4 linked regions of the Homo sapiens genome follow. The protein of the gene in region 1 purifies or fractionates together with the protein of each later gene. This does not show direct contact. Each region holds a gene or a part of one and is shown on either strand. Other genes may lie near its edges.

The links.
Region 2: the proteins of L3HYPDH (region 1) and UTRN purify together in Homo sapiens (affinity purification with mass spectrometry; 4 studies listed by BioGRID and IntAct, with this or other methods). This does not show direct contact.
Region 3: the proteins of L3HYPDH (region 1) and CCNE2 purify together in Homo sapiens (affinity purification with mass spectrometry; 3 studies listed by BioGRID and IntAct, with this or other methods). This does not show direct contact.
Region 4: the proteins of L3HYPDH (region 1) and DIXDC1 purify together in Homo sapiens (affinity purification with mass spectrometry; 3 studies listed by BioGRID and IntAct, with this or other methods). This does not show direct contact.

Annotation. Positions count from the first base shown.
Region 1 is NC_000014.9:59,481,276-59,489,187, reverse strand, and holds the start of L3HYPDH (trans-3-hydroxy-L-proline dehydratase), read left to right. Parts: upstream 1-4,779; 5' UTR 4,780-4,871; coding exon 4,872-5,379; exon of another isoform or gene 5,380-5,508; intron 5,509-5,612; exon of another isoform or gene 5,613-5,698; intron 5,699-7,912. Other genes in the region: JKAMP (JNK1/MAPK8-associated membrane protein), read right to left, coding at 1,360-1,514, 2,384-2,475, 4,072-4,117. UniProt on the Homo sapiens protein: Catalyzes the dehydration of trans-3-hydroxy-L-proline to Delta(1)-pyrroline-2-carboxylate (Pyr2C). May be required to degrade trans-3-hydroxy-L-proline from the diet and originating from the degradation of proteins such as collagen-IV that contain it.
Region 2 is NC_000006.12:144,484,334-144,491,505, reverse strand, and holds part of UTRN (utrophin), read right to left. Parts: intron 6,122-7,172; coding exon 5,987-6,121; intron 3,959-5,986; coding exon 3,809-3,958; intron 2,834-3,808; coding exon 2,672-2,833; intron 1,436-2,671; coding exon 1,307-1,435; intron 578-1,306; coding exon 404-577; intron 1-403.
Region 3 is NC_000008.11:94,892,129-94,900,091, reverse strand, and holds the start of CCNE2 (G1/S-specific cyclin-E2), read left to right. Parts: upstream 1-4,890; 5' UTR 4,891-4,915; intron 4,916-5,844; 5' UTR 5,845-5,870; coding exon 5,871-5,884; intron 5,885-5,972; coding exon 5,973-6,069; intron 6,070-6,147; coding exon 6,148-6,201; intron 6,202-7,122; coding exon 7,123-7,274; intron 7,275-7,963. UniProt on the Homo sapiens protein: Essential for the control of the cell cycle at the late G1 and early S phase.
Region 4 is NC_000011.10:111,968,172-111,975,343, reverse strand, and holds part of DIXDC1 (dixin), read right to left. Parts: intron 6,832-7,172; coding exon 6,706-6,831; intron 1,322-6,705; coding exon 1,090-1,321; intron 469-1,089; coding exon 361-468; coding exon of another isoform or gene 357-360; exon of another isoform or gene 1-356. UniProt on the Homo sapiens protein: Positive effector of the Wnt signaling pathway; activates WNT3A signaling via DVL2. Regulates JNK activation by AXIN1 and DVL2.

The sequences.
Region 1 (7,912 bases):
AAGGAAAGCGGAGTCTAAAAGTTTGGAAAATGTGCAGCCTGGCCATGTGGTAGAGAAGAAAAGCATTTTCAGGAGAGGAATTCAACCAGGCTGTACAGCAACTTGCTAGAGAGGTTAGCATGGCTAAAAGAGAGCCAAGTGCTAATAGCCAACACAATGAGAAAAAGGCTTGAAGGCATTTCAGAAGTCTTTCAGACTGCCTGTCCGACCACAGGCCCAGAGGCCTAGAAGGAAAGAATAGAAAGTAGGCTGTCTTCCTTATTTTTCTCTTTTAATTGGGCACTCTTTGTTTTGTTGTTGTTGTTTTGTTTTTAGTACTCAACTTTCTGAGTGACTTTTAAACTGAAATCAGAAGGAAAAGAAGGTAGCTAGGTAACAAGTTGCAGTCAGATGAAGAGAGTATTTCAGACAGCAGAAAGAGTTTGCAGGAAGGGAAAGAACCTAAAGTAGGAAAGATCCTGAGAAGTTGGAGGAACTAAAAGAAAATCAGTAAGGCAGAATTTGACTTCCCATTCCCAGCAGATTAAAGTTCACATGCTTATCAAGAACCTTCACATTCTGGCCTCAACCTATCTTTCCTACTCCCCTTTATATTACTTTTCTTCATTTGCAACCCACTCTTGACTACCCCAGATTACTTCCATTCCTGCCTACCACAGATCACATATTTCATACCTCTATGCCATTATTCATGCTGTTTCTTCTGCCTAAAATGTTCCTTTTTTGAAATCTTTCAGATCCCATGAGGCATAATTTATCTCTCTGTTCTTTGTAACTCCAGAGTACTTTGTTTATAACTCTTCCACTACATTTCTAAGACTGATTTATAATTATGTACACACTTGTTTTCTCCACAAGATTATGACTATAAGCCATGTCAGTTATTTTTATATCTCCTTCCCTGATCTTCCAAACATAAAATGCAGTGCTTAGTAAATGTGTGCTGATTTAATATGTTAATATGAGTTTTTGTATTAGGTTACAGCTATATCATTTTTAACTACATCATACTAGATTATTAGTATTAAATTAAATTACAAAGAATGTGTTCCATAACAATAAATAGCTTGTAATCATAACCAATTTTGTGTAGAAAACCAATAAGGATTATAGTTGAGAAGTAAAAGTATTCCTTCAAGATCACTGAGAGTAAAACAGACTAAGGACAGTTCCCTTAAAAATTACTAAGTCATGCCCTATTGTTAAGTTTTCTTGTCACAGTTAAGAATAATCTGAAGATAAAGAAAAACATGTTTACCACTTTTAAAACAGAAGAAGCATAATTACTTAATAAGGTCTTCTGAGTGATAATTATTCCAACATTAGTCCAGCCAGATATGTTCATAGAAATGTGCTAACCTCTTTTTCCCCGAGTACCATTCAATGAAGAACCAATGTAAAACCAGAGGAAGCATTGCCATAAATCCAAGATAGAGCCAATCATAAAGTTCAGGAGATTCTGTGCAAGGCTGACAATATTTCTGTGCATTCGTTCTCTGTCCTCTTGGGCATACCTATAATATATAAAACCAATATTTTGTGTACAGATATTATTTTACAACATTAACACCCCCCCAAATCATTCTATAAGACATCCCATTTCAGTTTAAATATTTAAGTTTACATGTGCAGCTTTTAGAAATAAAAAAGAGGGCATAAGTAAAATAAAAAGAAATCTATATTGTATGTGCTATATTTGTACAATGCTCTTAGAAGATTCCTTTTACTAAGTTACTAAAATAGTTGACTAACATTCAATGAAAAACCTAGTTATTAACATTATATAAGAATAACTGCAGATAAATGTTCTGGATTCATGATGTTCAACTTACTGTACAAGACACGGTACCAAATCATAAATTAGAAATTATTATAAAATTATTAAATGTTTTAAAAAATAATATAGACATCAAAATGCCAACATGAACAATGACTATATTAATGCCTCCATATTCTTTTATATTTCCTTATTTTATTTTTTTTTTGAGACAGAGTCTCCCTCTGTTGCCCACGCTGGAATGCAGTGGTGCAATCTTGGCTCACTGCAACCTCCACCTCCTAGGTTCAAGCAATTCTCCTGTCTCAGCCTCCCGAGTAGCTGGGACTACAGGCGCACACAACTATGCCCAGCTAATTTTTTTCTATTTTTAGCAGAGATGGGGTTTCACCATATTGGTCAGGCTGGTCTCGAACTCCTGACCTCAAGTGATCTACCCACCTAGGCTTCCCAAAGTGCTGGGATTACAGGCATGAGCCACTGCGCCTGGTCCTCCATATTCTTTTATAAATTAATGAGTATAATAACAAAAAATGTTGTATGTGAAAATATTTCAAAAGCAAATAGATTTTACAAAATGAAATAAGATACAAACATAAGACTTACCCCACATTCTCCATATATTTCAGTTGAGCCATTTTTAAATAATAGGGTCTTCCCACAATAAAGTCCAAGGCATGCTGGTTGAATATCGACAGCTTTTTAAAAACAAATGCCAGTATAGTAACATCTTTTGTGATTATAAAAAATAATTGCAATAATAGCTGAAGCATTTGGCAAAAATAACAGTTTCAAATTTTTGAATAATATGTATTAGACAAAAGTCTTGAAGCATTTTTAAATTTACATTTCTCCTTTTACACTGTGACACTGCAGACAGTTATCCTGGAACCTTGCTGTTAATACCGTGCCTTATGATTAAGGTCCTCAACCAGCAGAGCAGGATCTATCTCCAGGACTCAAAGCCTAACCCGGTATGATTAGAGGATACTTCTGAGTTTAACTGATTATAAAGTTCAAATATACATATATTTTTAAATTAGAGCACCAGTAGAGGGTCACCACCTTGTATTTTGCCCAGTCAGGACATTAAGCACCCACATGTAGACACACAATTATCATTATCACCTATGTTCATAACAGAACACATTTTCACATGGGAAAAGCAGAGAGAACATAATTTCATAACAGAGGTATGCAAATTACCTTTATAAAAAGTTTCCTACATTGTCCTAGCTTTTATCATTTTTGTGGAGGATAAGTGAAAATTTCATCAAGGCTGTCACTGGGCCAATATTTTAGAAACCACTGCATTAAAATTAAGCCCCTGATCTAAAGGCTTAGGGGAAAAGCAGCTATTCCTTACTTAAAAAAACCCCAACAACTAAGAACCTAATACGTTGTCTTTGACCTTATTCACAAGAAATTATGGAAGTTTTCTTCATCAGTGACATCTGATTCCCTTCATTCATTCATTGATTAAAACAAACAAACAGGCTCGGTGAGGTGGCTCACGCCTGTAATCCCAGCACTTTGGGAGGTCGAGGTGGGCAGATCATGAGGTCAGGAGTTCCAGACCAGCCTGGCCAAAATGGTGAAACCCCGTCTCTACTAAAAATACAAAAATTAGCCTGACGTGGTGGCGCGCGCCTGTAGTCCCAGCTACTGGGGAGGCTGAGGCAGGAGAATCGCTTGAACCCAGGAGGCAGAGGTTGCAGTGAGCCGAGATCGCGCCACTGCACTCCAGCCTGGGCTACAGAAGGAGACTCCGTCTCAAAACAAACTGCGGTCTACATGTGAATTAATTTGAAAAATTATGCATCTTTTGACTATTCTTGAACAATCATTTCCCAAATTATTCACGAATTCACAATCTAGACTGCCTGGTCTACAGTGCCTTCTCTCCTTTCACATTCAAGCAGACTTTTTACTTCCTTCTCCTTATGCTGCTGAGAGAAAAAGAGAAACAGCATTGAATAATATTCCTCCAGTTTAATATTTTCGCTTTTAACAAATTTCGGACTTAGCTTTTTAAACCCACTGGCCTCTTTAATGGGCGCTTATTTTTTTTGTAACCAATTGTAATCACAATGTTCTAAATTAATACATGAAAATGAATATTTCAGGTTTTTCAAGAATGCAGAAGGTAAGGAATTGGAAACTTCTGTATGGGCTTTACATCTAGTAGATGCTTAATAAATACACGTGAATATCAATAATCTAAAGTTTCTCAAAATCCAAGGCCTGAAAACCAGTATGATAAACTGAACTGAAATAAACAGCCTATCACTTACTAAGCAAAACCCAGGCTCCAAGCGACTGTTGAATTTCTCCTTTCATTTCCTTTAGCGAACGATGGCTAAAGTTTTAAGATTCCATTTTTTTGCAGCGGTCCTGCCCTTTGTGACGGGCGCTATAAATCTACGTTTGAGGTTGAAGCAGTAGACAAATTATGCAGCAACTTGCTTCTGCTTTACTGTTTTTTCTGCACTATCACCCGCGTTTTCAATTCCGAAGTCAACCCTCAAGCAAGTGTTCCCTCGACATTAAACTAAGGGACTGAAGAGACATTTCGGACCAAACAACAAAGACCTGGCATTTCGCCGCAGACAGCGCGCCTCCCCTAGTAGCCCGTTGCGGACAGACCACCCCAACCCCGCAGGAGTGCGGAGCCCGGCCCGAGGGCGGGCGGGGTCAAGGGGCGAGCCTGCGCCGCCAACCGAAGGCCGCCTACAAAGAGCCGAGCCCGAGGCCAGCCGTGTAGGAAAGTAGTCGGGACTACCAGAAACGCTTCCCGGGATCTTGGCGACCACTCACCCATGGGCCGCCTGAAGGTTTTTTTCGAGAAGCACTAGATCAGCGGATCTGGCAGCTGCACCGAACATCCGGGCCACAGCGAGCTCGGCGGCTCCGCCTCCCGGTAACCCGGGCGACAGCTCCGAAGTTCCTCCCTCGCTTCCGGGTTTAGGCTCCGAGACCCCGCCCCCCGGACGTGGCTGGTTAGCGTCCCGCCCTCCTCCCGCGGAGTCAGTGGGTGAGGGTCGGGCTTGAAGCCATAGCTGCGGGACCGTACTCGTCTCCCCCGACGCAGACCATGGAGAGCGCGCTGGCGGTGCCCCGGCTGCCCCCGCATGATCCAGGGACGCCGGTGCTGTCGGTGGTGGACATGCACACGGGCGGCGAGCCCTTGCGTATCGTGCTGGCGGGGTGTCCGGAGGTGTCTGGGCCCACCCTGCTGGCCAAGCGGCGCTACATGCGCCAGCACCTTGACCACGTGCGGCGACGGCTCATGTTCGAGCCCCGAGGGCACCGGGACATGTACGGGGCGGTCCTAGTCCCGAGCGAGCTGCCGGACGCGCATCTGGGCGTCCTGTTCCTGCACAACGAGGGCTACAGCTCCATGTGCGGCCACGCAGTGCTGGCGCTGGGCCGCTTCGCTTTGGACTTCGGGCTTGTGCCGGCGCCCCCTGCGGGCACCCGCGAGGCCCGCGTCAATATCCACTGCCCCTGCGGGCTGGTGACCGCCTTCGTGGCATGCGAGGACGGCCGCAGCCACGGACCGGTGCGCTTCCACAGCGTCCCGGCCTTCGTGCTGGCCACAGGTAATGGGCGGGACCTTTCCAGCCCAGGGCAGAGCTGCAACCGGGACGCGACTAACTACATTAACGGTTTTTCTGGGCTGGAACTCTGGCAACTAACCTACTCCGCGAAACCTTGCAATTAATAGAAAGGTAAATCACTGCCAACGTGTGTCAGCAGCCTTGCGTATTTGGTGCGTGTAATTTCGATTTTCCCTGACTCCCATCCGCCTGTGGTTTTGGGAGACCCTTGAGGAGCGAGGAATTGCGTGTTACCCTGACTCAGCGCCTCCCTCTGCACTGGTGAGGCATTCCTAGAGATTTCACCGGTGGATAAAGCAAGGTACGGTGGGGTCAAGGAAAGAGCGAAGAACAGCCAATGTACCAGGGTTCCAGGCTGGCTGAGAATATGCTTGGTAGACACAGAATCACACTTAATAAGTTACTAAACCTGGTCTCCTTTCCTCACCTCCCCCACTTCTTTGAAGAATTAAATGAGAATGAATGAACAAAGCAGTTTATAAATCATTAAGATACGAATGTTGCTTTTCTTTAAGAACAGGAACACACATTGCCTGGTTTCAAATCCTGATAACCCCCTAAAGCTGTGCAACCTTAGGCAAATTACTTAATCTCTCTGTGCCTGTGTTTCTTCTTTTCCCTCATAGAGTTTTTTTGTTAGGATTAAATGAGAGTATGCAAGATACTGTATTCCTGGAGATAGATTGCAAGGTTTATATGATCGCTAAAGTTCCCTAGGCCTATTGAGCCATTAAAAGGTTTTGCTGGATTCTCTAGTACAGATCCTTGTACAGCTTATCATGTAAAGCAGGGCATCTCTATAACCATAACCCTTACAGGAGGGATGACCTGGCAAGCTGGCATCTGGTTTCTCATCAGACTACTACCTCCCAGGAGCTGAATTCTATCAGTAAGAATGCTTTAGTCATTGTGACTGGAAGTGAGCCAGGAGCCAGTTTACCAGGAATAGAGTTATCCTTTTCTTAAAAATCTTCAAGCCATGCAAATCATCTGTTAGAAAGTTGGACCTTGATTCCCCCTGAAGAACTAGGTTTCAGATTAGCCTGATTATGAATGATAACTGATAGAACAGGCACTTTTAGAGCAACCTTAGGCAGCTGAAATCCACGAGTTAACGAAGAATGCCTCTGGAGAAATTGATGCCATTTTCCCAGAGAATGGTGTCACTTCCAGACTGGGAGGCCACTTGAGGGAGACAGAATTTATGTTTACGATTCCATTTTTAAAACCTCAACAGTTTAACTAGCGTGGCTACCAGAATTCCCCCTAGGCAACTCCAGCAGCAGAGTAGAAACACTCTAGACTTCTGTAGGAAATGGCAGCTGGCAGCAGGAACACAAACTACATCTCATTTCTGGGTCAGTTAGGGCAGGGTCAGTCAACCACTTGACCTCAGTAGTTCCTCTCAGTAGTTCCTGAGAGCATCACTGTATGACAGTACAATGATTAGTGGGCATTAATGGTCACTGAGTTAAGAAAATGAAATGCTATATTCTCTACTTTGAAAAATGCATACAAGGCAGACATAGTGTTCAAGGTCACTGCCCCACCTCTCCCCATCTCAGTGACCTTGTGCTAGAGAGTCCATGCCTCAGTATCACAGTCTGCAAAATGAGGATGACAACAGTACCCACCTCAGAGGGTTGCTGAGTTCATCTCCACCCCACCAGGCTAAAATGCAAACTCTTTCTTGTTCACAGTATTCTAAGTGCCTAGAAGAGTAGTCAGTCAATGAATGTTTGTTGAATGAGTAACTAAATAAATGAAATTTGGAGAAGAATATGCTGATTGACAAATGTAAACATCTGGTCCTCTTGAGAAACCTATTGCCACTGGAAATTAAAGTTTTGGCTTTCGAGTCCCTAATCTGTGCCAGGAACTCCCCATACGTGGAATTTTCAAAACAACTCTTTTAGGAGAAATAGCAGTTACAGTTTGCACAAGACACCAAAGCCACACTAATGGCAGAACTAGGGTTGGAACCCTGGCCTATCATATTGCTTCCCTCTCATCCTTAAAATTTTTTGTAGTTTAAGGAGATATGTTTCAATTTTCTAGAATAGTGCTTAGTGTATTTTAAAGCATTTTAAAATCTGTCTTGTCCAACTAAACTCCAAGAAGGGGAAAAGCCTATGTTTTATTCCTTGTACTTCTCGTATCTTCTACAGTAATCGGCACATAGTAGGTGCTCACTAAATCTTGAGCAAAGTAAATCAAATTGAAATTTCAGTGATATGCTTGTATAGAAGAAAAGAAAAACCCTTAGATTTTGGATTGTGTTCTGGATAGAGGTTGTATATTTTAGTAGAAAGGGTTTGGGCTTTGGAGTCACCTGGTCCTGGGTTTGACCCCAAGCTCTGCCACTTATTTAGTGGGTAAACCAGGGAATAATGTAAAGATAGTAAGTAAAACAGTACCTACCTCTCAGGGCTGTAGTAATTAAGGCACTAATGTAATGAATTAAGGGGCTAGTGTATGTAAAGACCTGCCACATAGGAAGTACTCATGGGTGAAA
Region 2 (7,172 bases), on another chromosome or scaffold:
TTTTATTTTCCTAGAAAATGGAATTTTTACGATATCCATTCTAAGTATGGTTCTTCTAGCTAATTCAAATTTATCCTTGAAAACTTTGCTTATTAGTCACACTCTGCTGAAGCCCTCCTAACTTCACATGGTGATTAAGCTGTATTTCTTTTGTTTTGGTTTTTGTCATCATGTTATATACATGTCTATTCTAGTTTCCTTAGCTATCTCTCTTATCTCTTCTAATTTCTTTGGAGGGAAAGACCACACTTCTTATTTTTTAACACGTTTTCCATCATCAATCCTTATGTTTAGCACACTGTAGACTAGTGATCACTGGACACACTAGGCATGTACTTGCTAGACCAAGCCATAACAGCTGCTGAAAAAGCCACTGGATGTGCCAATCACCCAAAAGCCTCACCATACACTTGTCCAGGTGCGTCTGTATGACGTCAGGGTCTACGTCCTTCACATCCAGAACGTGAAGTTCTGCTTTCACGCCATCCAGCACACGCTTGCAGTCCAGCATGCGCTGCTCGAAGTTAGCTGGCTTCTGGAAAAGCTGGAACTTTGTGGACACCTCTCGGAGTTTCCTCTGTTTGCAGAAATGAAAATATGCAATTCCCATCAGGATGATTATCTCTCTCATCATGAGCATAACAGATACTACTAAAAATTTGTACCATAAAGTACCAAAAGAAAAAAATTCAGAAATATGACCCAAAATAAAAAACTCCTAATGAATCTCAGTGAGGGTACCCGATCACCTAAGTGAACTGCATAGCCCAGTGTCAAAAATTACAACACTCAGTGTCTCAATCTCAGAAGTAATAGATTTGGATAAGAAATTTAGATAAAGCTGACCTCACTGGAATTAAAACTTCATGTTCAAAAAGATAGTTCAGGAACCTAGAACTCAAAATGCCCTTCATCACAAGTTCAGAGTGAAAGTCAATGTCATATCAACCATGAAAGAACTAAATGATGCTGCATCCAATTCATGCTCGGCCTGCCCACAGCATCAGCCACACGATACTGACAGAGGCTCTGCATTAAAGAAAAAGTGTATATAAAGCTAACTTCTAAATCTGGCTCACTCTCTTGTTTCTCATCTCAGCTATCAAAATCAGATTTCATATTTTTCCACACATGCAACAATTTGTTTCTGCTGCCCTAGGATGCAACCTTCAACACATCATCACTCCCATCCCATGGTTTACATCACAAAGAATACAAACGGTGCCCAAGTAATCAATTCTTTCTCTTTTTTGAAGAAAATTCCCAACAAGTTGAAAAGTAAAAGGAAGCTCCTGGCCTTCTTTACCTGTAGCACATCCATCTGACTTCCTCCTCTGGCAGTCCTACTCTCTGGGGAGGTCAGGGGCTGAGAACGCATATTTCTTCTCAACTCCTCTAGGGTTAGCTCATGGGCTGAGATCTCTGCTTGGATTTTCTAAAAAGAGATTGGAAAGGGGAGAGGATGTCCTTTTTTTTTTACTTAAGTATAAAAAGAGACAATACAAAAGTTCTATATCGTTGTGTAATACATGATATCGTATTTTACATAATGTTGACCTCCACAGAAGCTTTAATAAGTTTTTGTAGGCCAGGTGCGGTGGCTTATGCCTGTAATCCCAACACTTTGGGAGGCCGAGGCGGGTGGATCACGACATCAGGAGTTCAAGACCAGCCTGGCCAAGATGGTGAAACCCCATCTCTACTAAAAATACAAAAATTAGCTGGGCACGGTGGCGGGCGCCTATAATCCCAGCTACTCGGGAGGCTGAGGCAGGAGAATTGCTTGAACCTGTGGGGCAGAGTTTGCAGTGAGCCGAGATCGCGCCACTGCACTCTAGCCTGGGCAACAGAGTGAGAATCCGTCTAAAAAATAATAATAATACGTTTTTGTATAATAATAATAATATGGCCCACTGCATGGTATGACTATTGTACATGACGCACCTGCTAAGGGCTTTGCATTTGTCGTTTCTAATGTTCACAACTTATTTATAAGGAAGGAATTGTCCCAACTTCACAGCTAAGAAAACTACAATTTAAAATATACAGGACTTTTCAGCCAGGCACAGTGGCTCACGCCTGTAATCCCAGCATTTTGGGAGGCCGAGGAAGGTGGATCACCTGAAGTCAGGAGTTTGAGACTAGCCTGGACAATATGGCAAAACCCCGTCTCTACTAAAAATACAAAAATTATTGGGAGGCCGAGGCAGGCAGATCACTTGAAGTCAGGAGTTCAAGACCAGCCTGGCCAACATGGCGAAACCCCGTCTCTACTAAAACTACAAAAAATTAGCCGGGCGTGGTGGCGCGTGCTTGTAGTCCCAGTTATTCGGGAGGCTGAGGCAGGAGAGTCACTTGAACCCAGGAGGCGGAGGTTGCAGTGAGCCAAGATCGTGCCACTGCACTCCAGCCTGGGTGACATAGTGGGATTCTGTCTCAAATAAATAAATAAAATAAAATAAAATAAAATAAAATAAACTATATAAGACTTTTGCCAGAGTCTCACATAGAAAGCAAGAGAACTCCAAAACCCAAATGCTGCCCTGTAAGTAAGGTCAATCTTTCCCATTGACTCTCGGTTTTGGAGAGCAGGAGGGGTTCTCTTATAGTTGAGGAGGCAATTACAAAAGCTCTCTTTACAGCTCAAAAGCCCTCAAATGCACGGCAATACCTGAGCTTCCTGTGGAACTTGGAAAGCATCTATCCTGTCAGTCAGGTATGTGGTGAGCTGTTTGTCCAGCTCCCCCAAGCTCTCTTGCAAGACTTGAAGCATCTGGTCAGTTTCCCGCAGCACCTGGAGTTGCTTTTCCAAAGAAATCTGCTTGCTCTCTGCCTGCACAAAGGAGAAATTGAATCATTAGTTGCCCAACACAAATATAAATAGCAGAATATATATATTCTGGCCACTAAGAAAAGACCATAAAAGCTTTCATCCAAGACTTTAGCTTTCTTTATAAATAAATAATAATTACTAATGATAACAGTGAAAATGTCCCACTAGGATCTTATGTACCATGCAGCTGAATTACTAATTATTACTTCTTTCTATATATAATGTTGAAATACAAAAATGTAAAGGTTTCCCATAAGATGCATTAAACAGAAGATAAAAATGTGTTATTTATTATAATTTTAAAGCATTTTTAGGAATCAGCAATGTCTGCCAATTAAGAATATAAAACATAAGAAAAATGTCTATCAATACACAAACATCAGAGTCTCTTTTTTTCCAAAGCCTAAAACAAATTCTATAGGTGTACATACATATCAAACTACTATTTACAGCACTTTTGGGTTAAGCTTGATGTTATTCATGGGCTGAACATCAACAGTTATTATTTAATATGTGTTTGGAAGCACCTAATATTCATACCCAACCTTCCTATAAAAGAAATGTTCTTTCTCTAATTTGTGATACGAATATGTATGTTACAACCTGGATATGAACTAAGAGACTATGGCTTTCACAGCAGCTTATGTGAAATATCATGGCCCTAATATTTACTAGGATAGTATGAGTTGTTGTTCTTATATACAGCTATCATATGATCCTTAATGAAAATTAAATGTTTGTAAGTAGAAGTAATCTCAAAAATAATTTTTTTAATCATCCAGTTCTGTCTTAGAGTGTTAGATCTATTCTTCCTTTCTGAATATTTCAATACCCTCAATGCCCCTGTTAGCATTGGTTACCAACTTTAACCAACATTAAAGATTTTTCCAACATTAAAGCTCTATGATATGGAGCTTAGGGCCAGCTCCACTTCATCAATACCTAATCAACACCCATGTATGTCCCAACTCTTACCAGGTGACTTAGATCTTCATATCGGCTGTTGAAAGCCTCCAGTTTCTCACTGATTATATCATCCAGGATCCCCCCATCAATCAGAGTCTGGCCAAGCTCTCGAATCTGGGTGCGATTATCTGCCGGGTGGCGCAGAACAGATTCCAGAGACTGGAATGGAGATGGGAAAAAAAAATAATAATGCATTTACTAAGGCAAAAGGTATCAAGGATCCCCAAAATGTCTATTTGTTAAACAAGTAATTATATTTTCTAAAAATCTACCTAAGTAACAGGACCAAAAGTTAAGTAAATTACTAATTCACAAAAATATCCATCATGGGATTAAAAAATGCATAAAATTGAGAAATTAGCACAAGTGATATATGATATAATTTCACAAAAATAATTTCAACTATTATTAATTATGGGAGGGTGAGGCAGGAGGATCACTTGAGCCCAAGAGTTCAAGGCTGCAGTGAGCTGTCATACCACTGGACTCCAGCCTGGGCAACAGAGCGAGACTATGTCTCTAAACAATAAATAAATGAATAATAAAAAGTTAAAAATAATTATTAATTATATGGGGAAATGCTCATGACACAAAGTTCAAAGGCAGAGAACAGTACTATACAAGCAAAATGATCTCAACTTTTATTAATTATATTACTAAAAATAAGTAGTCATTTTCCTACAATATATGCAGAATAAGAGGCATTGTTTTATATACACACTTTTTATATACATAAATCTAATTAACCATATGGGCTAAATAGCATTCCCAGTTTACAGATTGGAAAATTGAAGCTCAGAAAGGTTAAATTACTTGCCTACATACACACAGTCAAAAGAAGAGCTAAGATTCCAACATGGCTCTAAAGCTTTAAGACTCCAAAGCCTGGCCAAGTGCGATGGCTCACACCTCTAATCCTAGCACATTGGGAGGCCGAAGCGGGTGGATCACCTGATGTCAGGAGTTCGAGCCCAGCCTGGCCGACATGGTAAAACCCCATCTCTACTAAAAATACAAAATTAGCTGGGGTAGTGGCACACGCCTGTGATCCCAGCTACTCAGGAGGCTGAGGCATGAGAATTGCTTGAACTCAGGAGGTGGAGGTTGCAGTGAGCCAAAATCATGCAATTGCACTCCAGCCTGGGCAACATAGCAAGATTCCATCTCAAATAAAAAGATAAATAAGTAAATAAAAGACTCCAAAGCCTTTGATCCAATATACTACCTTCTAGTATGCATACATAAAAGATAATAATTAGGAAGAAATCTACAAACTGTTTTAAAATGTTTATCTTAGAGTTTGCTTTATACTTTTCTTTATTTTCCATATTTCAAGAATATATACGTATTCACTCTTACATTAGGAAAAAAATTAAGCTTTTCATATTTTTCATTCACTCTGTCTCTCACTCTGCTATATTTGAGAAGTGACATCTTTTCTCTAGCAGAGCATCCGTCTCCTGGAATGTAAGTGCCACATTTTACTCATTTCTGACCTTTAATCCAGTTGTCCACTCAGTTCCCACATGGTACCATGACATTTTTAAAAGCCTATCTACCCCCTTCCCTTTTCTTTTTTGTTAAGCAAACCTACCCTCTTTGCACTGTATTTCATTTAAGAAACGGTTATTAAGTTAACATGTGCTACACACTGTGCTGGGAACTGAGGAATAACAAAGCATCGGGTACATTTCTTGGCCTCAAGGAGTTCAAATCCAGGCTTGAAGACAAGCTCCTACGACAAGATCCCATGGCTCAACCACTGTCTTAACTTCTAGCATCTGAAGGTAAGAGACAGGAATCCCCTATAAACTGTCAGTGCTGTGTTTAGTGAGTAAAAATAACTTGTTGATGAAACAAGAGAGCAGTTGTCCTAATAACATATGGCAGAGCTTTGTCCAGGGCCTACTAAAATAAACTGGAAAACCACTAGAGTGCTTCAACATGTCTAAAATGTAAGATGTCAAACAGCTAACCACGTCTTGAGGCTGATATAATGGGTCACCAATAATCTAAATACACATGATTGTATAAACACTTCAGGCTATGGAAGAAAATGCAAGTGACATTGAAAACCACTGAGGAAGCAAATGCATTTGCCTGCGTAAAGCATTACATTCCTCATTGTAATACACGTGTGGCCTCATCACAGCAAAGAGAAATGCCGTGGAGATCACGGGTTCCAACCTCCAGGGCTTCGTTGACAGCATCCGTCTTCTCAGGCAGGACCTCTGTGCTCTTCATCCGCTCTTCCAAAGTGTTTAACCAGGTAGTTTCAAGATCCAAATAGTGAAGCAGTTCAATCCAACAAGACCAGACCTCCTAAAGCATGAAAAATTTTAAATTAGACAAAAAGCCATTTCACACATCGTATCTCTAGTACTACACATTCTCTTTAATCGCTAATAATTTCATTTGGATGTGAGTATACCTAGGAATTCAGAACTGATGGAGTTGAAACTTCAAAAAAATAAAATAAAATCGGCCAGGCGTGGTGGCTCACGCCTGTAATCCCAGCACTTTGGGAGGCTGAAGCAGGCAGATCATGAGGTCAGGAGATTAAGACCATCCTGGCTAACACGGTGAAACCCTGTCTCTACTAAAAATATATATATATATATAAAAATATTAGCCGGGTGTGGTGGCGGATGCCTGTAGTCCCAGCTACTCTGGAGGAGGCAGGAGAATGGCGTGAACCCGGGAGGCGGAGGTTGCGGTGAGCTGAGATTGCACCACTGCATTCCAGCCTGGGCAACAGAGCAAGACTCCATCTCAAATAAAATAAAATAAAATAATCAACAAAATCATATGAGACCAGTTGGTGAAGGGTGGGGAGCAAAGAGTGGGCAAGAGGCTGCCTCACTCTTTAAAATAAATTCCATGATCTGATTTAAATGTCAAAAATAGAACTATATAATTAGTAAGAAAAACAGGAGAGAAACATTATTTAGTTTGTTTTTTAAAGACCAAGTGCGGTGGTTCACACCTGTAATCTCAGCATTTTGGGAGGCCAAGGCAGGTGGATCACATGAGGTCAGGAGTTCAAGACCAGCCTGGCCAACATGGTGAAACCCCATCTCTACTAAAAATACAAAAACTAGCTGGGCATGGTGGCAGGCACCTGTAATCCCAGCTACTCGGGAGGCTGAGGCAGGAGAATCACTTGAACCTGGGAGGCAGAGGTTACAGTAAGCCCAGGCCACGCCACTGCCCTCCAGCCTGGGTAACAAGAGTGAAACTCCATCTCAAAAAAAAAAAAAAAAAAAAAAAAAAAGTTTGGTTTTTGAACAAAATGAAAAAATTGCTCCCAATTGTAAATTTTTAAAAAATAATTTCATAGAAAATTGAAATCTCCTGGGCCCCACCCAATTCC
Region 3 (7,963 bases), on another chromosome or scaffold:
TCCTACTTCAGAACAGGGCAAGACAGCTTTCTAGAAAAGGCAGTGTTTGAGTATTAATGAATAAATGGGATCTAGCTGGGGAAAGGCAATGGAGGTGGGGAGAATGAGGTGCAGGTGCCAAGGTCCCAAGGTGAGAAGGACAGGGGATGTGGACAGCTCCATGTAGGGGGATCTCCTGGGCGCAAGAGGTCTTGTGTGTTTAAGTTTTGGGGTTTGACTGTTAATCCAAGCGGAGGTACAGAAAGGTTTTAAGGAGTGGCATCTGTGCTTTGGAAGGGCAGTTTGGCAACAGGTTGGAAGGCAGACTGCAAGAGGCAATGCATGTCAGGAAAACCAGTTAGAAGAGTATTGCACTGAAGAGAGAATGGTGTCCTGAACTAAGGCAGAGGGAAATAAAGCATGAATGTGGAAATGACTTGGGAACAGAAGAGAAAGGAATTTGGTGATAAATGGAGGCAGCACAGCACAGGTGAGCTGGAGTCAGACTCTACTGTGGATCTTAGGCAAACTACACTTGTGCCTCAGCTTCCTCATTTATAAACCAGGAATGACAGTCATTAGCACCTGTCTTATAGTGTTGGTGGAAGATTGAAGGAGTTAATAGTATGTGAAGGCTTGGGGTACAGCCTAGCACATTATCTTACCCAGGAAATATTAACTATGATTATGAAGCTCAGAAAAGAAGAAAAAAGGAATGACTAAGTTCACTCCCAGGATTCTGGTTTGGGCAACTATGTATGCAGTTCTCAAAGTGTGTTCTGTGGACATCTAGAGGTCTCAATGACGCTTCAAAGTAGAATGTGAAGTCAAAACTATCTTACAGTAAAATGTATTTGTTTAACAATAAAATTGTTTTTAAAACTGCATCTCACCTGATTCTAATTTAAAAAATTGGCCAGGTGCAGTGGCTCATGCCTGTAATCCCAGCACTTTGGGAGGCCGAGGCGGGCGGTTGATTTAAGGTCAGGAGTTCAAGACCAGCCTGACCAACATGGTGAAACCTTGTCTCTACTAAAATACAAAGATTTTTTTTCCTTTATGTATGTTTTAGATAAGCATGAAGGATAAGCAAGTTTCATTAAATGGGAAGAAAATGTTTTATTCCTTTCTTGTTACATGAGAAATACTATTATTAAGCACCATTCATTTTTGCTTAGCTTCAAATGAGTCTCATGACAATAAAAACGTATGAAAAATACCTTGGTGAAAGTTTTGAACAATCTGACCAACAAGATAAAGTATTATTGAATTATAATTCAAATTATAAAACGAATATCCATGAGTGCATACTGATAGGAATAAATGACTAAGTTAATGAATGGGGAAAAAGAGACAAATCTCTAATGCAGAATAAATTAAAATAATACAGATACTTCACCCTAAAAAAGATCACTCCTCACTCCTTAGGTGTGGGCTGCACACAGTGACTTCCTTCCAAAGAGCACAGTATGGAAAGGGAGGAAAAAGAGTAATTTTACAATGGAGAAACCTGACAAACATTACCTCAGCCAAGCGGTCAAGATCAACATCAACAGTAATAAATCATGATGTCGGTATGAACTCTTAGTATGATGTGATGAAAATGGTACTTTATCTCTATGATCTTCCTCCCCAAACCCATAACCCCAGTCAACTCGTCTACCGGAATTCATCTGATGTTTTTGTCGCATGGTTAGCCTACAAAATACTTGACCAGCACTCCTCAAAACTGTTAAGGTCATCAAAACAAAAGTCTGAGAAACTGCCATGGCCAAGAGGAACCTAAGACATGACATCTAAATGTGATGGGTATCCTGGACGAGATCCTAGAGCAATAAAAAGATATTAGGTAAAAACTAAAGACATAGGAATAAAGTATGGACTTTAGTTAATAATAACACATCGACATTGATTCATTAAATAGCAAACACATCATAGGGTAATAAATATGCCATACTATAAGATGTCAATAACAGGGGAAACTGTGCATGTGTGGTGGGTGGGAGAGGGGAGTGAGTATATGGAAGTCCTGTTCCACCTGCTCAATTTTTCTTTAAAACTGTTCTAAAAAATAAAGTCTATTAATGTTTTTAAAAGCCTGGTATTTATTGGGAATAATTCCACCATCCGTCTATCATCCATCATGGTAACCTAGAGACCTAAAATTCTATAATGGGATATCCTACATACAATTCAAATCAGCATTTACCCAAGTCCTACTATATATGCCTTTGAACTGCTGAATACTGGCTATAAAAAGATGAACAAAACAATTTCCGAGGTCGAGTTGGAAATAAAAGACATTTAAATAAGTAATTTTTGTCCTGTAAGATGAGCATAACTGTAGCACAGGGAAAAGGATCTGTGAAGCTTCGACAGAGGAGATATACAAAAAAAAAAAAAAAAGGCACAGAATAAAGAAATGGGTGGGCTAAGCCTGAATTTTTTTTTTTAAGCCTGTGCCTCCAAGCATCTTCTGGGGTTTTTTCCTCCTGAAAATGAATGTCGGAGCAATCAAAATAGTTACCCCAGAGAAGCATGGTAGAGGCCAACAGTTTATTTACCATGGTGTTTTAACTTTACATGTACAATAGGGGAAATATACTTTAGGTGAATTTTAAAACGGATAAGTAGGAAAAGAGCAAGCTAAAAACAAACATACCCGCCCCCTACCCTTTATTTTCTCTTTTTTTAACAGACCCACTTGTCTATTGACCAGGTATCTGTAATATGGGAGAATTCACTCTATTCCTTTCCACACAAAGACGTCTTGGAATTTTCTAATTTCTCCTTTACTATGATTGCATTCTGTTCACATAATAGTCAAGGGTATGGAAAGAACATTTATAAGAGCAGTGTCTTTTAAAATCAATTTACTAGTTAACTCAGTACTGAGCATACATTCATCATTCAAAGATGATTCCCACAAACGTTACTCGACATACTGGTTTTCAGTATATTTTATCAAATTCAACCACGAGGGCCACCAGTTCTGCTTACGATCAGGTGACCCTTGTTGGGAGACCCCTGACCCCTTTTCTTGACATCATGCTGTTAGACCTTTAAGCTAGCTATACCGCTAACTGCGTTTTGAGTGACTGCAAAAGGGAGGCAACTTCTGCCCCGCCGAGAGCCATCCTAAGCGTTAGAAATGGCAGAAAGTTTCTTGGGACTGACAAGGCATGGGCTTCTCCTGATGCTGTCACCTTGGGCAAAGCTCCTACAGGTAAATTAGGGAGAGAATTATTTTGCCGGCGTCACGAGACGAAGAATCGAAAAAGTGTGAAAAAGGACTTCGCCCGCCCCAAAGCGCCCATCCGGCGGCGGCTATTTCCCGGGCCTCAAGCGCGCTCGAGCGGCGCAGCACAAAAGGCCGGGCGGGAGCGGGGGTCGCCGGGCGCCGCCTCCCGGTGCATCTCGGGAAGGGCTCCCGCCCGCGAGGCTCCGTCTCCCCGGCGCGGCCCGCTCGCCGTCCGGCTCGCTCAGGGCCTGGGCAGACGCGGCCCGCCCGAGCTACCGCGGGTTCCGAGACGCCTTCGCACTGCTCCTCCACCCGGGGGATCTTTGTTCCCGGAGCTGTTCCCCGCCTCGCTGCTCCCGCCGCAAAACCTGTTTGCGGAATACCCGCCGCAAGTCTGACTTGACGATGTGCAGTTTTGGGGTGCGCCAGTTGTGGGGGCATTCATAGAGGCAGCGAAGGGACCCCTAAGTTTAAACACCCGGGGAAGGATAAAGGAAGAGCGTCGGGCCCCCCTCCTCCCAACAGCGCTCGGGCGCGAACGGCGCCCTCCCGCGCTGCCGGCTCGCGCGGGCTCCGCAGGGCGCGCTGGCGGCGGCGGCGGGGCGGGGCGCGGCAGGCGGGCCCGGGGCCTGCACGTGGTGGCGATCTTTCTTCCCACCCGGCCAGGTCCCCGGGGACCACCGCGCTCAGGGGGAGGAGGAATGCCGTTCCCGGGCCCCGCTCCGGAGAGGGGTTTTACCCTCTGGGATCCCGGAATTGGAGGTGGAGAAGAGAGGAAGCAAGGGAGGGCGCGGCGTGGCGCGAGCGTTTCCTGCGCGGGGACTGCGGGGTGGCAGCTGGAGGCCACTGCAGGGGCAGAGCGGCGGGTTGGGGGAGCGACCGACCCATGGGGAGGGAAACCCGGTAGGGGGAGCAGGGAGCCGGAAAGCAGGGTTGATACATACCTGGGTGGGCGGGCTGGAAATGCCTTCCCTGGGCGCGCCGCGCAAGGCCGGCGGAGCGGGCTCCGGGTGGTCGCGGACCGGGACTGGGGAGAGCAGAGCCGCACTTGGCCAGGCGCGTGGCTGAGTGGTGTTTACATTCTGCAGCCACTCCACGTTGTGCTGCCGCCCGTGCCTCCCATTGGCCAGCTCTTCAGCCAACGCTTTGCTCCTCCCCGAGGGGCGGGCCCTCGGGTCCCCGCGTCGCTCAGGAAAGACCTGGGTTCCCTGAGGCCTTGGCGGGACAGCTAGGGCGCGCCCCTGGACGGTCACTTCCCAGCCACCCTATGGTCGCCCGAGTCGTGTCCCCCTGTTATGCGCCCGGGCTGAGCCGCAGGCTGACACCCCCGAAATCCAGGAGTTGCAGTGGGAGGAAGCAAAAGCAAACTGGCGGGAGATGCGCGAGCCAGGCGGCGGGGAGAACAGCCGCGGAGAAGGAGCCCCTGAGAGTTTCCCTACCGCCGCCGGCCGCGCCGTGGAGCGCGGTGGACGCGGGCAGAAGGCCCGGTAGAGTGGACCCCACGGCCGCTCCGGGTGGCGGGCGCGCACTGAGAGCAGGGCGCGGCGCGCGGGCACGCGGGCGGACGGGCGGGAGAGGGGAGCGCGCTGTCCGGAGGTGTCAGTCTGAGGCGCATGCGTGCGGGGCGGGACCGGCCCGGCCTATATATTGGGTTGGCGCCGGCGCCAGCTGAGCCGAGCGGTAGCTGGTCTGGCGGTGAGGAGTTGCTGCGCGTAGGGGGGATGTGGGAGGAAAGAAAGCCCAGTTGGGCCGATCACTTACCACAGGCGGGAGCCTCAGGGAGGAAAATCGGGAGGGCTGAGAACTAGACGACTGGGGGTCATGGGTTCCCGCGTTCCGTCCCTGTCAGGAACCTTGGCAGGGGACCGGGAAGCGGCTGGGCATGGAGAGCCGCCCCTCATTCTAGGGGCTTCTCTATCCCACCCTCATTTGGGGAGCTATCCCGTGGGAGAGAGGATGGGAGGCCGGGTCCCCTCCATGGGGAGAAAAGTTCCCAGCCAGCCCAGTCTCCCCTTTCTTTAGCTCCTTTTCCTGCCCTCCCCCACGCCCTCCGCTTCCCATCTGGAGTTGGGGTCCCGGCGCCCCTCCGAGCGGCGGTAGGGCGGCAGGGCCGGGAAGGAGGGAAAGGAGACTGGAGGCCGTGACACCAGTCTTGGTTCCTCCGCCCCCTGCTTCCCCGCCACCGCCGCTCTCCAAATTGGCGCGGAACCGGCTTCTCCACAGCATTTCGCCTCCACAACCCCCTCTCCCCGCTGGTCCAGGAGGGAGGCGGGACGTGGGGGCGCTGCCCAAGCCCCACTCCCGGTGTACGGGGGAGAGGGTGGAGGACCCAGAAAAACCCGTTTGAGGAAGATGTGCCTCCCTGCGCGTTCAAGGTGTCAGGAGTGCTTGGTAAATTTTTGGACACTCGCGTTCCAGCTGTACATTCAGTTGAGGAAATGCAGGCTTGTATCCAAAATGAATTACCATGAGCTAGCTAACATAGCACAGAAGATGGCAGGGTCACAGGGCCCAGGCCCCCTTCGGAGGGACTGAGCTTTCACCTGCGAATCAGCGTCTTACTGGCACTTGGAGAATGTGAATGACAATGTACTTGACTGCGGCTTTTCCTCTCCCCCCTTCAGAGGTTTTATACACCTGAAAGAAGAGAATGTCAAGACGAAGGTAACATTATCTGTCTTAGAGACATGTTTCAAATTAGTTGCTGCCTTTAACTTACTAATTACACTTCCTTTTTAAAAATTCACTACAGTAGCCGTTTACAAGCTAAGCAGCAGCCCCAGCCCAGCCAGACGGAATCCCCCCAAGAAGCCCAGATAATCCAGGCCAAGAAGAGGAAAACTACCCAGGTGATTTAAGGAGAAAGAGGGAGGAACGAAATTCCATGCTGGGACTTTAGTTTACCAATGGTCTTTTCTATTTTCCAGGATGTCAAAAAAAGAAGAGAGGAGGTCACCAAGAAACATCAGTATGAAATTAGGGTAATGCAGAACTGGGCTGGGTGGGTTTGGGGGAAAAATGGAGGATAGATGAATAAGAATAGAATTATGTGTTTATTGCTTTGCGATAGATTCCTCTGACACTTTTACTTTTAATGCCCCTAGAGGTCAGCAGGAAGGCGCCTATCTTTGGGTGGTTTCTATGTGCCCGAATCCTACTACAGCTGCAGAATAAGTGCCTTCAAGCAGCTGGTTCCTTTTTGTAAATCCCTCCCTCTTGGAACTGCCTGGTGCACCAGGGCCCGCCTAATCTGTCCAATATACTGCTCTTTGTTCCCTCGCAGACTCTAGTAGACGGTCCTAATAGCTGCTTCTTGGGCATAAATAGGATGTGAGATCACTGACAGCCTGGCACGCAGCCCTTTGGTACCTCTTCTTCCTATGTGTTTTACAGAAAGCAGCACTTTGGAGATAGTGATTGCGTTTGAAACCAGCATTATTGGGAAAAGAATCGTTTAAGTAATCGATTCCATTTTTAAGGTTTTGCTTTCAAATATTCAAAAGTATCAGAGCACACTTTTTTTAAAAAGAGCTTATTTGAAAAAAAAAAAAAAAGGTCCCTGCTACTATTGCTAGATACAGAGAACGATTCTGTGATCTTGAAAGTGATTAGTATTTTAGACTGCAGATGCATTTTGTTATTACTGTCCTTCTTCGACACCTGGTGTCTTCTATTACCAGAATTGCATTTTGTTGTCTAAAACATCCTATTACTCTTTATAAAAATCAATATGAGCTATATGGCTTGTTTATAAAATGTGAATGTCAAATTAGCTATATTGCCATCTATGTTAGCTAAAATTATGATTCTTTAGACATATTAGCTTTCATTTATGAAAGATCCATTACAAAAACTAAGGTTTTCCTTGCACAAATTGATATTTTTCTTTTTTTTTATGACAGAATTGTTGGCCACCTGTATTATCTGGGGGGATCAGTCCTTGCATTATCATTGAAACACCTCACAAAGAAATAGGAACAAGTGATTTCTCCAGATTTACAAATTACAGATTTAAAAATCTTTTTATTAATCCTTCACCTTTGCCTGATTTAAGGTAAGAAAAATTTCAGTAATTTTATTTCAAAGATATAAAGTTGTGCTGATTTAATACATGGCACTATTTTGTCTTTTGCTTTCATAAAGTAGAAAAACGTGTAAAAATTGTTTACTAATATTTAATCATATGTCATTTTATCTGAGAGTAGTGCTGGTTGCAAATGATATGGGTATTTAAAACACTGATTCTATAAAATTATTTTCATTTGCTTGCTGAGTACTATAAAGACTTAACAGGACTGAATTAGTTTTTTGTTAAGATAGAAACATTTTTACATGTACAGCTTTTTCCTTTAAAATTTTTATTCGTGTTTCTTGCAGCTTCAACTCAAAGGAAGCTTTTCCAATTGATGTATCAACCCTATTTATTTCTTACCAAACTTAATAAGGTCTATACTTAATTCTTTTTTCTAGTCCATGAGTGTAACTAAGAGGTACAGCTTATACAAAACATGTACTGTATTAATTTATGATTGGCCTTAATAAGCAATTTAATGGAATCAGACACTTAAACTCACCAATCCCCCTTTCCCTGCATTCTGTCCCACCTTACCCACCCCATAGGTGATCCTGCTGTAGATGATCTATTTAGAGGTGATTGAGACTTCTCTTGACTGTGATCACATGCCTTATGTGTTTAACTTTTTTGTATTGCTCTTGAGAAAACATTTTTTTTCACTTTTAATT
Region 4 (7,172 bases), on another chromosome or scaffold:
GGCTCAAGGACAGCACAATGGAACTGGCTATCATAAACACTGGCACCTCATATGCAAATGTCAGAACCACTGGACTGGGCCCTGACAGGTTCCAGCCATGCCCCCATGTGGTCACAGTTAAGCACTGGCACTGGGACTGCACAGATTCCATTTGTGGGAAATAAACCAGCACCCCACCCTACCTTCCTACCCTCCTACTAGCACAAACCCACAAAGCACTGCTAAGGGGTATCCCTTTAAAGCCAAACATAAACTGAGGGGAGAAAAAGGGCTTAGGTGCCTTTTTGCTTGTTGTATTGTTACTTGAAGCCGAGAACTCCGAGAATCCTCCAGAATTCAGGTTTCAGAGGCCACAGTTACCTGGAGCAGCTGGATTCAGACGGGGACCTTTGTTGCCCTTCGTACTGCTGCACTAGGGCCCGCACACTCCAGTATGGATTCTCAATTTCCTCATCCATGCTGCTGTTCCTAAAGTCAAAGGACCCCAGCAAAGGGAAGGTGTCAGTCCTTCAGATCAGATCAACTCAACAAGTACAGAGAGACTGCCACTCTGCGAGCAGTATACACACATGAGTAAGACAAAACCCCTGCCTCAAAGACACTTGGTACCTAGCAGGGAAGGCAGACAAAAAACAAGTAATTCACCAACCTGTGCAACACCTCAGGGTCCTGCTCTCTCTTAGCAGATACACAACCCACAAAGCATTTCCTGCCATGACTCCCAAGACAACCTGACCTTTGGGTACATTCCAGAGTGGAGCTTCCTCTAGATGAACTGGAACACTGCTCCCACGGACCTCCCAGTGAAGAAAACACACTGTGCCAAAAGTGTATATTTAAATTTTGGGCACCAGAGCAAAAACTTACACATAAGATTCCTTTACTTTTGCTAAATGCAAAATAAAAATAAACATCTCAGAAGAAAAGGCTTTTCTCTTTTGAGAGTGCCCTCCCCTACCTCCCCACTCCATGTTCTTTTCTGCAATCTGGGGCTGTTTGGGTGACGTTTCTATCTACTGCACTGTATCATCTAACAGAAGAAGTATCAGAGAGAGGGATCAGTTCCCACCCCCAGATTTCTACCCTTACCTCTGTCTATATCGAAAGACATCCCGTCCTGATCGGGACATGTCATGACACACATCGGCCAGAGCAGCAGCTGCTCCCTGGGCAACAGCAGTGGCACAGTGTGGTCGGTGACTTTGCAGAGGGGCTCTGGAGTCCCGTCCTTGGTTCACCGTCCTGCTGGAGCCAGGTTTGAAATGAGCTGCCAAGGCAAGGACCAGCCTCATGATAGACTTCAGGTTTCCATCCACAATATCTGAAGGATAAAACGGACCAAGAATAAAACAGACCAAGAGGTCCTAAGAGGGAGGCAAAAGCTGAGGACTTCTGCATTTATTACATATTGCTAGTGATACAGGTAAGCAAGGCAGTCAGGGTCTCAGTCCTCACAAAGCTCTGGGCAACAAGGGAGACCGAATATATAACAGCAATGACAATAAAGTAAGATCATGTGTTTTGATAAGAGAAGTACAGGATTCTTTGGGAGGTCAGAGTAGAGACATCTTATCTAGATGGCTCAGAGAAGGATTCCTAGAGGAAGTGGGTTCTAAACTGAGACTTGATTGACAAAAGAGTAGCACATTAGTTAGACAAGAGAAAGACAAAGAGTATTCCAGGAAGAGGGAACAGCAGGTGTGAAGGTCTTGAAGTGGGAGAGAGCATGATATATTAGAGCTATGCCATCTAATATGGGAACCATTAGCCACCTGTAGCTATCAAGCACTTAAAAAGTCACTAGTCTGAAATGAAATGTGCTCTAAGTGTAGTATGTACTTAGCATACACACATGCCCCCAAAATGCAAAATATCTCGATAACTTTTTATATTGATTGCATGAAATGGTATTTTGGATATATTGAGTTAAATGAAATATTATTAAAATTAATCTCACCTTTTTTTTTTTTTGAGATGGAGTTTCACTCTTGTTGTCTAGGCTGGAGTGTAATGGCGTGATCTTGGCTCACTGCAACCTCTACCTCCCAGGTTCAAGCAATTCTCCTACCTCAGCCTCCTGAGTAGCTGAGATTACAGGTGCCCGCCACCATGCCCAGCTAATTTTTTGTATTTTTAGTAGAGATGGGGTTTCACCATGTTGGCCAGGCTGGTCTTGAACTCATGACCTCAGGTGATCCACCTGCCTCAGCCTCCCAAAGTGCTGGGATTACAGGCGTGAGCCACTGCGCCCGGCTCACCTGTTTCTTTTTTTATGATGTGGCTATTAGAAACTCTTTTTTTTTTTCCCCCAGGCTGGAATGCAATGGCACGATCTTGGCTCACTGCAACCTCTGCCTCCTGGGTTCAAGCGATTCTCCTGCCTCAGCCTCCTGAGTAGCTGGGATTACAGGTGCCCACCACCACGCCCAGCTAATGTTTGTATTTTTAGTAGAGATGGGGTTTCACCATGTTGGCCACGCTGGTCTTGAACTCCTGACCTCAAGTGACCAGGAGTGTGATCAGGGAGGCCTAGCCTCCCAAAGTGCTGGGATTACAGGTGTGAGCCACTGCACCCGGCCTGCTATTAGAAACCTATGTGGTTAAGTTACCTATGTGAGTTGCATTCTATTTCTGTGACACAGCACTGTGGTGGAGGAAGTGAAAGAAGTTCAGCATAGGCAGAGCCCAGAATGCAGGGGGAGACAGGGAAAGGTGAGGCAGCAGAGGGGTGCATCAGAGGGTGGATCACACAGGGCATGGGAGGCCACAGGAAGGACTCTGGATTTTATCCTAAGGGTCCTCAGATACGGAGGAGTGGCATGAGTATATGTACTCTTAGAAAGATCATTCTGACTGCAGTGTGGAGAGCAGATGAGAAGGGGACAAAAATCAATGCCGCAGGACTAACTCAGACTGTTACACTTCTCCAGGTAAATGACAATGATGTCCTAAATGGCAGTGTTCCCTCAAAATAGCTGACTTTAATGGGCCAGATCCCCAAGCCCACTCCACATGGGAACCAGATCAGAGGTATCGTGGAACTCTAAATTTTGCCCTAGAAATAAAAGAGGAATGTAGGCAGAAAACAGTGTGGTAAGTCTGGTGAAAGTCAATGTAACGAAATGGGTAAATTTTTATTTTATTTTTTAGCTTTGTAGCCTTTAAATATACAAGTCTTGGAAAAGGATTATTTGTGTTTGTTTTTTTTCTTTTTCACCTTTTGTTTTAGAAGCAGGTGGTACACATGCAGGTTTGTTACAAAGGTATATTGTGTGATGCTGAGGTCTAGGGTACGATTGAACTCATCATCCGGATAGTGAGCACAGTACCCAACAGGTAGTTTGCAGCCCTTCCTCCCTCCTTCCCTCCCTCCTCTAGTAGTCCCCAGTTTCTATTGTTCCCATCTTTATGTCCCAATGTGCACCCAGTGTTTAGTTCCCAATTATAAGTAAGAACATAATGGTGTTTGATTTGCTGGTTCTGCATTAGTTTGCTTAGGATAATGGTCTCCAGCTGCATCCATGTTGCAGCAAAGGACATGAATTTTTTTTTTATAGCTGCATAGTATCCTATGGTGTATATAGATATAGATATAGATATAGATATAGATATAGATATACACACCACATTTTATTTATTCACTGCACTGTTGATGGGCACCTAGGTTGATTCCATGTTTTTGCTATTGTGAATGGCGCTGCAATGAACCTACGGGTGCATGTGTCCTTTTGGTAGAATGATTTATTTTCCTTTGGGTATATACCCAGTAATGGGATTGCTGTAGTTCTTAGAGAAATCTCCAAACTACTTTCCACAGTGGCTGGACAAAGTTACATTCCCACCAACAATATATGTGTCCCCTTTTCTCCACAGCCTTGCCAACATCTGTTATTTTTTGACTTTTTAACAAAAGCCATCCTGACTGGTGTGAGATAGTATCTCATTGTGGTTTTGATTTGCATTTATCTGATTAGTGTTGATGAGCTTTTCTTCATATGTTTGTTGGCCACTTTTGAGAAGTATCTGTACATGTCCTTTGCCCACTTTTCAATAGGGTTATTTGTTTTTGCTTGTTATTTAAGTTCCCTATAGATTCTAGATATTAGACCTTTGTCAGATTCATAGTTTGTGAATATTTCCTCCCATTCTATAGGCTATCTGCTTACTCCCCTGATAGTTTCTCTTGCTATGCAGAGGCTCTTTAGTTTAATTAGATTCCAATTATCAATTTTTGTTTATGTTGCAATTGCTTTGAGGATTTAGTAATAAATTCTTTGCCAATGCCAATATCAAGTAGGGTTATTTCCTAGGTTTTCTTCTAGGATTTTTATAGTTCAAGGTCTTATATTTAAGTCTTTATTCCATCTTGAGTTAATTTTTGCAAAAGGTGATAGACAGGGATCTAGTTTCATTCTTCTGCATATGGCTGGCCAGTTATCCCAGCACCATTTATTGAATAGGGATTCTTTTCCTCATTGCTTATTTTTGTTGAGTTTGTCAAAGATCACATGGTTGTAGGTGTGGAACTTTATTTCTGGGTTCTCTAGTCTGTTCCATTGGTCTATGTGTCTGTTTTTATACCAGTACCATGTTGTTTTGGTTACTGTAGTCTTGTAGTATAGTTTGAAGTCAGGTAATGTGACACCCCAGCTTTGTAGCTTTGTTCTTTTTTTTTTTTTTTTGAGATAGAGTTTCGCTCTGTTGCCCAGGCTGGAGTGTAGTGGCGCAATCTTGGCTCACTGGAACCTCGGCCTCCTGCTTTCAAGCTATTCTCCTGTCTCAGCCTCCTGAGTAGCTGGGACTACAGGCATGCACCACCACACCCAGCTAATTTTTGTATTTTGAATTTCTTTTACCTCTTTGGTTAGATGTATTCCTAGATATTTCTTTTTTGTGTGTGGTCATTGTAAGTGGGATTGTTTGTGGGATTGTGTTCATAATGTGTCTCTCAGCTAGAATGTTATTGGTGTATAGAAATGCAACTGATTTGGCCAGGTGCAGTGGCTCATGCCTATAATCCCAGCACTTTGGGAGGCTGAGGCAGGTGGATCACTTGAGGTCAGGAGTTCGAGACCACGCTGGCCAACATGATGAAATCCCGTCTCTACAAAAATACAAAAATAAGCCAGGCATGGTGGCGCATGCCTGTAGTTCCAGCTACTCAGGAGGCTGAGGCAGGAGAATCAGCTGAACCTAGGAGGCGGACGTTGCAGTGAGGTGAGATCACGACACTGAACTCCAGTCTGGGTGACAAAGCAAAACTCTATCTCAAAAAAGTAAAACAAATGCTACTGATTTTTGCACACTGATTTTATATCCTGAAACTTTACTCAAGTCATTTATTAGTTCTAGGAGCCTTTTGACAGAGGCTTTTGGGGTTTTCTAGGTATAGAATCATATCATCAGTGAAGAGAGATAGTTTAACTTTTTCTTCTCCTATTTGGATGCCTTTTATTTCTTTCTCTTGCCTGATTGCTCTGGCTAGGACTGCCAGTACTATGTTGAGAAGGAGTGGTGAAGGATTCTTTGATACCTTCCACAAGGTGCTCTCAATGATCAGTATTGGCCTCATCTAAATGATCTAAACACAGAGAACACTAATATAATAATCCAACATGAGCCGTTCTGCCCCTATTGTCATGAGACCCAAAGGCAATCAGACCCAGGAACTGACGCTGAAACAAAACCAGGTCTATAGTCAGTTCTCGAGAAACAGCAAGAGAACTAGGGAGCCTATGCTCTCTAAGAACACCTACACTGTTCCTCCCTTGAAGCCTGGGCTCAAAATAGCCCAGCAAACCCATCTGGGCCAAGCCACTACAGAAGAGGGCAGATGCAGAGGTCACAGAGCTGCTTTCATCCTGCCTAGAATGTTCTATGATATCCAAAAAAGGGCTATAAAATATTTCCCTTCTAAAAAACTAGATGGAAAAAATGTAGGTTATGAGTATCTTAAATAATATTTTGTCATGAAACCCAAGGAACTTAAAAAACATAAACTCTTCATTTTTGATAACTTAAATGAGAAATTCTAAAATTAATATCCCAATATTGTAATTTCTTCTCTCTTTTTTAAAAAATGGAGACAGAGCCTAACTATGTTGCCCAGGATAGTCTCAAACTCCTGGGCTCAAGTGATCCTCCCGCCTTGGCCTCCCAGTGCTGGGATTACAGGTATGAGCCACCATGCCCAACCATAATTTCTTCTCTAACCACTAATTTTCCTACATACACTCAAGCAAATCTGTATTCAATTAAAATGAATGCCCGGGCACAATGGCTCACGCCTGTAATCCCAGCACTTTGGGAGGCCAAGGCGAGGCGGGTAGATCACTTGAGGTCAGGATTTCGAGACCAGCTTGACCAACACAGTGAGACCCCATATCTACTAAAAATACAAAATTAGCCAGGCATGGTGGCACATGCCTGTAATCCCAGCTACTTGGGAGGCTGAGGCAGGAGAATCACTTGAACCAGGGAGGCAAAGGTTGCAGTGAACCAAGATTGTGCCATTGCACTCCAGCCTGGGCAAGAAGAGTGAAACTCCGTCGCAAAAAATAATAATCATGAAATAAAAAATAAAAAATAAAATAAAATGAATGGAGACTTTCTATCTTCCCCCAGGTTACAGCCAAGGATTTTCCTGAGGCTAGCACTCACTGGTTAAAGTATACTCATGCACCAAGGATGTGATGAGGCACTGACCTTTAGCCGAAGTCTGGTGCATACGAATCTTTTTAGAGGCCACAAACTGTAGCACTTTCTCCACATTATTCTTCATCTCCTGTTGGTTACCGGGACTCAGCTGTACCCCACTCAGCTTTTCTCCTGCTGTTAGGAGAGAGAAAATATAGGAAGTTATAGGGAGGAATATTATCAAAGTTTCATAGCAGCTAGACACAGAGGAAGGGAAGATTTGATGTGAACACCAACATTATACATAAATATATAAATGAGTTAAGTCCTGGTGTTTGTCATTTAGATGGGAAATAGGAATATGAAAGCCTTTTGGAAGGCTTTCAAATTTATACTTAGGGGTCTGTGAAGTTACTGTGTGTACATTTATTCAGTCAGCAAATATTCACTCAGCATCTATTGAGTGGCAAGTACTCACTATTCTGGGCACCAGAGAAAAAGGAGAGAAAAAGAACAATAAAGTCCCTCCCTTCATA